Linked DNA regions of Homo sapiens: region 1 is linked to region 2. The links come from fine-mapping of genetic effects on gene expression. A gene starts in region 2. The other region holds a variant in brackets. All regions are shown on one strand. Distances are from middle to middle.

Region 1 (2,906 bases), 630 kb before region 2:
CGCTCTCCGTCTCTCTCTATCTCTCCGTGTCTCTCTATGTCTCTGTGGGTCTCTGTCTCTCCCTCTTAGTTTCCATTTCTTCTGCCTCTGTCTCTGTGTCTTTTTGTCTCTCTGTCTCTCTGTTTCTGCCTCTCTCTGATTGTGTCTCTTCCTATCTCTCTATCTCTGTCTTTGACTCTCTGTCTCTCTCTGCCTCTATCTCTGTTTCTGTCTCTCTGTGTCTCTCTCTGTCTCTATCTCTTCTCTATTTCACTCTCTGCCTCTCTCTGTCTGTGTCTCTGTCTTTTTCTGTCTCTTTCTCTGTCTCTCTGTGTCTCTCTCTGCCTCTATCTTTCTCTCTGTCTCTGTGTCTGTCTCTGTCTCTCTGTCTCTGCCTCTCTCTCTCTCTGTCTCTATCTCATTCTCTGTCTCTCTGTCTCCCTCTCTCCTCCTCCCTCTCTCTCTTTGCTCCCCCCTCTCCATCACAGAACCCAAAGCAGGACCTGAGATCTCCCCCAGAAGGTGCCCTGGGGAGCCCCCATCACAGCTGAGGACGGGCAGACTCAGGATCACCCCCGTGGCTCCTGGCCCCCGCCCGGCCCTGGCCGAGTCTCCTGTCCACCCAGCCTTTGTTCAAGTTTGAACCTTCCCCACACATCAGAGGCTTCAGATTTCCCCGGAGAATCCGATTTGGGCCACTCCGACGCTGCAGCTGCGTCTGTATTCCGGGCGGGTCCCGGCCCCACAGACTTCCCGCCATGGCCCACTTCCTGGCACGGGTTGGTTGGCCCCTCACCGGCTGTGAGGTGGGGTCCCTCGCCAGTGGGCAGATGAAAGCAGTCTCCCCTCCTTTCCCCAGCCCCCCGGCCGGAATCCACAGCCTCAGGTGGTGGAAAGAGCACTGTGCGGGGGGAGTCACACCCTCCCAGGTTGGAGTGTCCCTCACAGTGGGACCCTGGAGCCTCAGGGCTCTCGTCTGCAAAGTGGGGGTGAGTTTGAGGAAACAACACCATTTCCTGGAGACAGGCAAGGGCCCCTTAACGGCCAAGACACTTGCAGTACAAGAACTAGGAAACTGGGCTGGGCACGGTCGCTCACACCTGTCATCCCGGCGCTTTGGGAGGCCTAGGTGGGTGGATCACCTGAGGTCAGGAGTT[C/T]GAGACCAGTCTGTTCAAGACCAACCTGGCCAACACGGTGAAACCCCGTCTCTACTAAAAATACAAAAATTAGCTGGGCGTGGTGGTGTGCACCTGTAATTCCAGCTACTCAGAAGGCTGAGGCAGGAGAATCGCTTGAACCCGGGAGATGGAGGTTGCAGTGAGCCGAGACCACACCACTGCACCCCAGCCTGGGCAACACAGCGAGACTCCATCTCAAAAAAAAAAAAAAAACAGAAAACAAACAAAATAACTAGGAAACTGTACTTAAATGGCAAGAACAATTGAGTGAAGGTGGGGTGGAAATTCAAATCCAGCTGCAGTATCAGTATTTTCCAAAATGTCTACAATTTTCACTTGTTACCTTGGGCGAGGCACAGTGGCTCTTGTCTATAAACCCAGCTACTCAGGAGGTTGAAGCGGGAGGATCGCTTGAGCCTGGAGGTTGAGGCTGCAGTGAGCTGAGATCACACCACCGCATTCCAGTCTGGGCGACAGACGGAAACCCTGTATCTAAAGAGAAGAGAAGAGAAGAGAAGAGAAGAGAAGAGAAGAGAAGAGAAGAGAAGAGAAGAGAAGAAGAGGAAGAGAAGAGAAGAGAAGAGAAGAGAAGAGAAGAGAAGAGAAGAGAAGAGAAGAGAAGAGAAGAGAAAAGAGAAGAGAAGAGAAGAAGACACCACAGGCCAGGCGCAGTGGCTCATGCGTATAATCACAGCGCTTTGGGAGGCCAAGGTGGGAGAATTGCTTGAGCTCAGGAGTTCGAGACCACCCTGGCCAACGTAGCAAGGCCCCATCTCCAGAAGTTTTGTTTTGTTTTTTTTTTTTTTTTTGAGACGGAGTCTCATTCTGTTCGCCCAGGCTGGAGTGCAGTGGCATGATCTCGGCTCATTGCAACCTCTGCCTCCCGGGTTCAAGCGATTCTCCTGCCTCAGCCTCCCGAGTAGATGGGATTAAAGGCGCTCGCCACCATGCCCAGCTAATTTTTGTATTTTTGTAGAGACGGGGTTTCACCATATTGGCCAGGCTGGTCTCGAACTCCTGACCTCGGCCTCCCAAAGTGCTGGGATTACAGGCATGAGCCACTGCACCTGGCCGAAAATTTTTTTTAGAAAAGAAAAGGCGCAACAATGAGCATCCTTGGACATGAATCTCTTACACTCTCTGAAGTTTTTCTTCAGGACAAATTCATCCTGGAGTTGCTTGTCAAGAGACCATAAAACAAATAGTAAGGCTTTTGATACATTTTATCAAATTATCTCTGAAACTTCATAAAATACATATCCTTCCATTGTACATCAGCCTGTTCATTTACTCTCATCCATGCCAATAATGGGAGTTGTTATATATATATAATATATAATATTATGTATATCACATATTATATATAGTATATATAATATAATTATATATAATAAATATATTAAAAATTATATAGTTTATATAATTATATAATATATAAATATATATTTCATATATAAATATATGTATTTATATATAAATGTATATTTCATATATAAATATATGTATTTATATATAAATGTATATTTCATATATAAATATATGTATTTATATATATAAATACATATATTTAAATATATATATTTTTAGACGGAGTCTTGCTCTGTCGCCCAGGCTGGAGTGCAGTGGTGTGATCTCAGCTCACTGCAAGCTGCGCCTCCCAGGTTCATGCCATTCTCCTGCCTCAGCCTCCCGAGTAGCTGGGACTACAGGCGCCCGCCACCATGCCTGGCTAATTTTTTGTATTTTTAA
Region 2 (2,906 bases):
CATAGCTCACTGCAGCCTCAAACCCTAGGGTGAAGCCACCCTCCTGCTTCAGACTCCCAAATTGCTGGGATTACACACGTGAGCCGCCCCGTCCGGCTGGGGCACTGTGATTTTTAATAACTCTCATGCCACCCAGTTGTCTACAATCCAGGGACAAAGAGGTTTGGGTCCCCGTCTTACAAAAAAAAGAAACCAAAGATCCAAGAGGCTATTGAATAAGTGACGTGTTGTCTGACTGCTTACTTCCTGCTGAGAGCTGCCTCAATTACATTACATGCCTGTAACCATTCATTCTCACCACCCCCTGTGAAGTGGGTGGAGTTACCAGCCCCATTTGACAAATGAGGAAACGGAGGCTAGGAGAAGGCAGCTCACTTGCCCAGTCAAAAATGCTAGGCTGGGCATGGTGGCTCATGCCTGAAATCCCAGCAATTTAGGGGGCTGAGGCAGGCAGATCGCTTGAGGCCAGGAGTTTGAGACCATCCTGGCCAACATGGCCTCTCTACTAAAAATACAAATATTAGCCGGGCGTGGTGGTACACATTAATTCCAGCTACTCGGGAGGCTGAGGCACAAGAATCACTTGAACCTGGGAGGCGGAGGTTGCAGTGAGCTGAGATCGCACCACTGCACTCCAGCCCGGGTGACAGAGCGAGACTGCGTCTCAAAAAAAATAATGAAAATAAATAAAAGAGGTGCTTCCGCATGCGTCCTCATCATCTCTGTTGCTGGGTTTATTTGAAATTTTTAAAGAGGGGGTACCGACAGCGGGAGCCTCCTCACCTTCGCGGCCTCCCTGGAACTTTACCCGGATCGTCTTGTCGATGTACTTGGACAAGTCCAAGATGCTCTCCTTTTTCTTCTTCTCCTTATCCTGCGGGGAAAGCAGAGCGCATGAGACCTGGAGCGCGGCCCGAGCTCCACGCCCCCCGGCTCCAGATTCCGCCGCGCGCTCACCGCCATCTTGTCGCGCCGTGTGGCTCTTCGCAGGCACCGCCCCGCGCCCTTTGACCTCCCCCACGCGCATGCGCGGCGCATGCGTGGCCCGGGGTCTCGGGGCGTTGCTGGGAAACATCTGCCGTTGGTTGCGGCGGGCACCGGCCGACATGGCGGCAGCGGTGGCGGCTGCGCTGGCGCGGCTTTTGGCGGCCTTTCTGCTCCTCGCGGCCCAGGTGAGCGCGGCACCGGTCCCGACGGCACCGCGGGCTGCGGCCCTTCGGCCTCTCTGTCCCCGGGCTACGCGCAGGAACGACCCCGCTCGGCCCGTCTTGGGGGTCCAGCCTCGGGGATCCGCCGTCCCCGCGTTGTCGGCCGGCGGTGCCGGGGCTCGGCCGTGACCTTGCGGGTCTGTCCCCGGCTCCTCTCCTTTCCCCGCCTCGGAGGCCCTCCGCCGCTGCAGCGCCACTCACTTCCCACCGGGTCTGAAATTTGTGCCCCCTCCATCCTCCGGTTCTGCTTCTCCGTTTCGGGGTCTCCAGTTGCCGCCGGGGACGCCTCTCTCCGGCTCTGTGGCCTTGAGCAGGCGGCTGCCCACCCCTCTCCGAGCCTCAGTTTCCCCTTAGGCGGAACGGGCACGGTGCTAAGCTAACCTCACCCTAGGGGGTGCGGTGGGGGAACCCAGAGGCGTCCCGCGCGTCCCCCAGTAACTGGCAGCATCCTGGAGCGGCCAGGAGTCCAGCCCTGCACTGGGGTCGGATCCCCGCTCCATCTTTTACTCCGTGACCTTGGACGATGGAATTCGTGTGCAGAAGGAGGACCGACTATGGTGTGGATTCTGGAGGTTCTGTCCAGGGTGACCAGCGCCCAGGGCCAACAGGCCTTCATTATGTTCATTGTGTGTCATTTGATGTAAAGAGTGTCAGGTTCTAGTGGGGACAGTCTACGAGATCGCACTGTCATAACTGCATCTTTTATTTTCTTAATTCCAAATCTTCCCTCTCTCCTGAGTTCGGTGGCTCAGGCAATGGAACCTGGAGCAGCCCCACAAATGCAGCCCTTAACCTTCACTACCCCCTCAGAGTTCTCACTCTTAAGGCGTCGCCGCCACCTGGCTCCTCAGTCTCCACTCCTCCAGCCCCACCGCTATCCCTCTGCTGTGGCTGCCTTTGTCCACCACATCCCCAGTCCATCCTCGACACAGCAGGGGTGACCCTTTCAAAGTATGTCAGACCGTGTCGCATCCAGATGAGTGCGCCGTCCAGTTGTGACCTGGCTGCTGGGGAAGCCTGCAGCTCATTGCAGTCGCTTCACTCTCTAGTCTTTTCTCTTACCCTGAGATGCCCCTGGTCTCTGCAAGGCTGTCGGGCCCCCTCGGAAGCTTTCTGAGAACCCCAGTCCTACCCCCAGCTGCTCTGTCAGCCCCCTTTGGACTCCCCCCATTCTGCAGCCAGGCACCTAGAGCTCCCCAGACATTTGGAAGGAGGGGGAAAGCCAGAGGTGGAAGAAAGATCACAGAACTCTGTGGAGAGAGGGACTCAGTTTGCCTGGGAAGGCTTTTCCGAAGCAGATCTATTTTTTTTTTTTGAGACGGAGTCTCGCTCTGTCGCCCAGGCTGGAGTGCAGTGGCATGATCTAGGCTCACTGCAACCTCTGCCTCCCGGTTCAAGCAATTCTCCCACCTCAGCCTCCCGAATAGCTGGGATTACAGGTGCATGCCACCACTCCTGGCTAAATTTTTTTTTTTTTTTTTTTAGTAGAGACGAGGTTTCACCATGTTGGTCAGGCTGGTCTCGAACTTCAGACCTCAGGTGATCCACCTGCTTCGGCCACCCAAAGTGCTGGGATGACAGGCGTGAGCCACCGTGCCCGGCCCCGAGGCAGGTGTTCTGAATGATGAGTAGGAGTTTGCCGGGTCGGCAGGAGGGGAAGGGTGTTGGAAGCACCAGAAGCAGCATAAGCGGGGGCTG

The links. PIP is the estimated chance that this variant, and not a neighbour inherited with it, causes the effect. A credible set is the group of variants that fine-mapping cannot tell apart.
Region 1: its variant is the best candidate, but not a certain one, in a credible set for the expression of SPPL2B in minor salivary gland (GTEx, PIP 0.88).

Annotation. Positions count from the first base shown.
Region 1 is chr19:1,700,816-1,703,721 of GRCh38, forward strand. No RefSeq gene overlaps it. Among named protein-coding and RNA genes, the nearest start is that of TCF3, 50 kb to the left of the region's middle. The variant C/T (reference allele first, on the strand shown) is at 1,137.
Region 2 is chr19:2,327,604-2,330,509 of GRCh38, forward strand. SPPL2B (signal peptide peptidase like 2B) reads left to right here and starts at 1,081. Exons shown (of 15, transcript NM_152988.3): 1 at 1,081-1,172. The coding sequence starts at 1,107. LSM7 (LSM7 homolog, U6 small nuclear RNA and mRNA degradation associated) reads right to left here and starts at 983. Exons shown (of 4, transcript NM_016199.3): 1 at 958-983; 2 at 784-874. The coding sequence starts at 963. RefSeq lists silencers at 1-87, 1,108-1,367 and enhancers at 358-417, 698-1,352, 788-837, 848-897.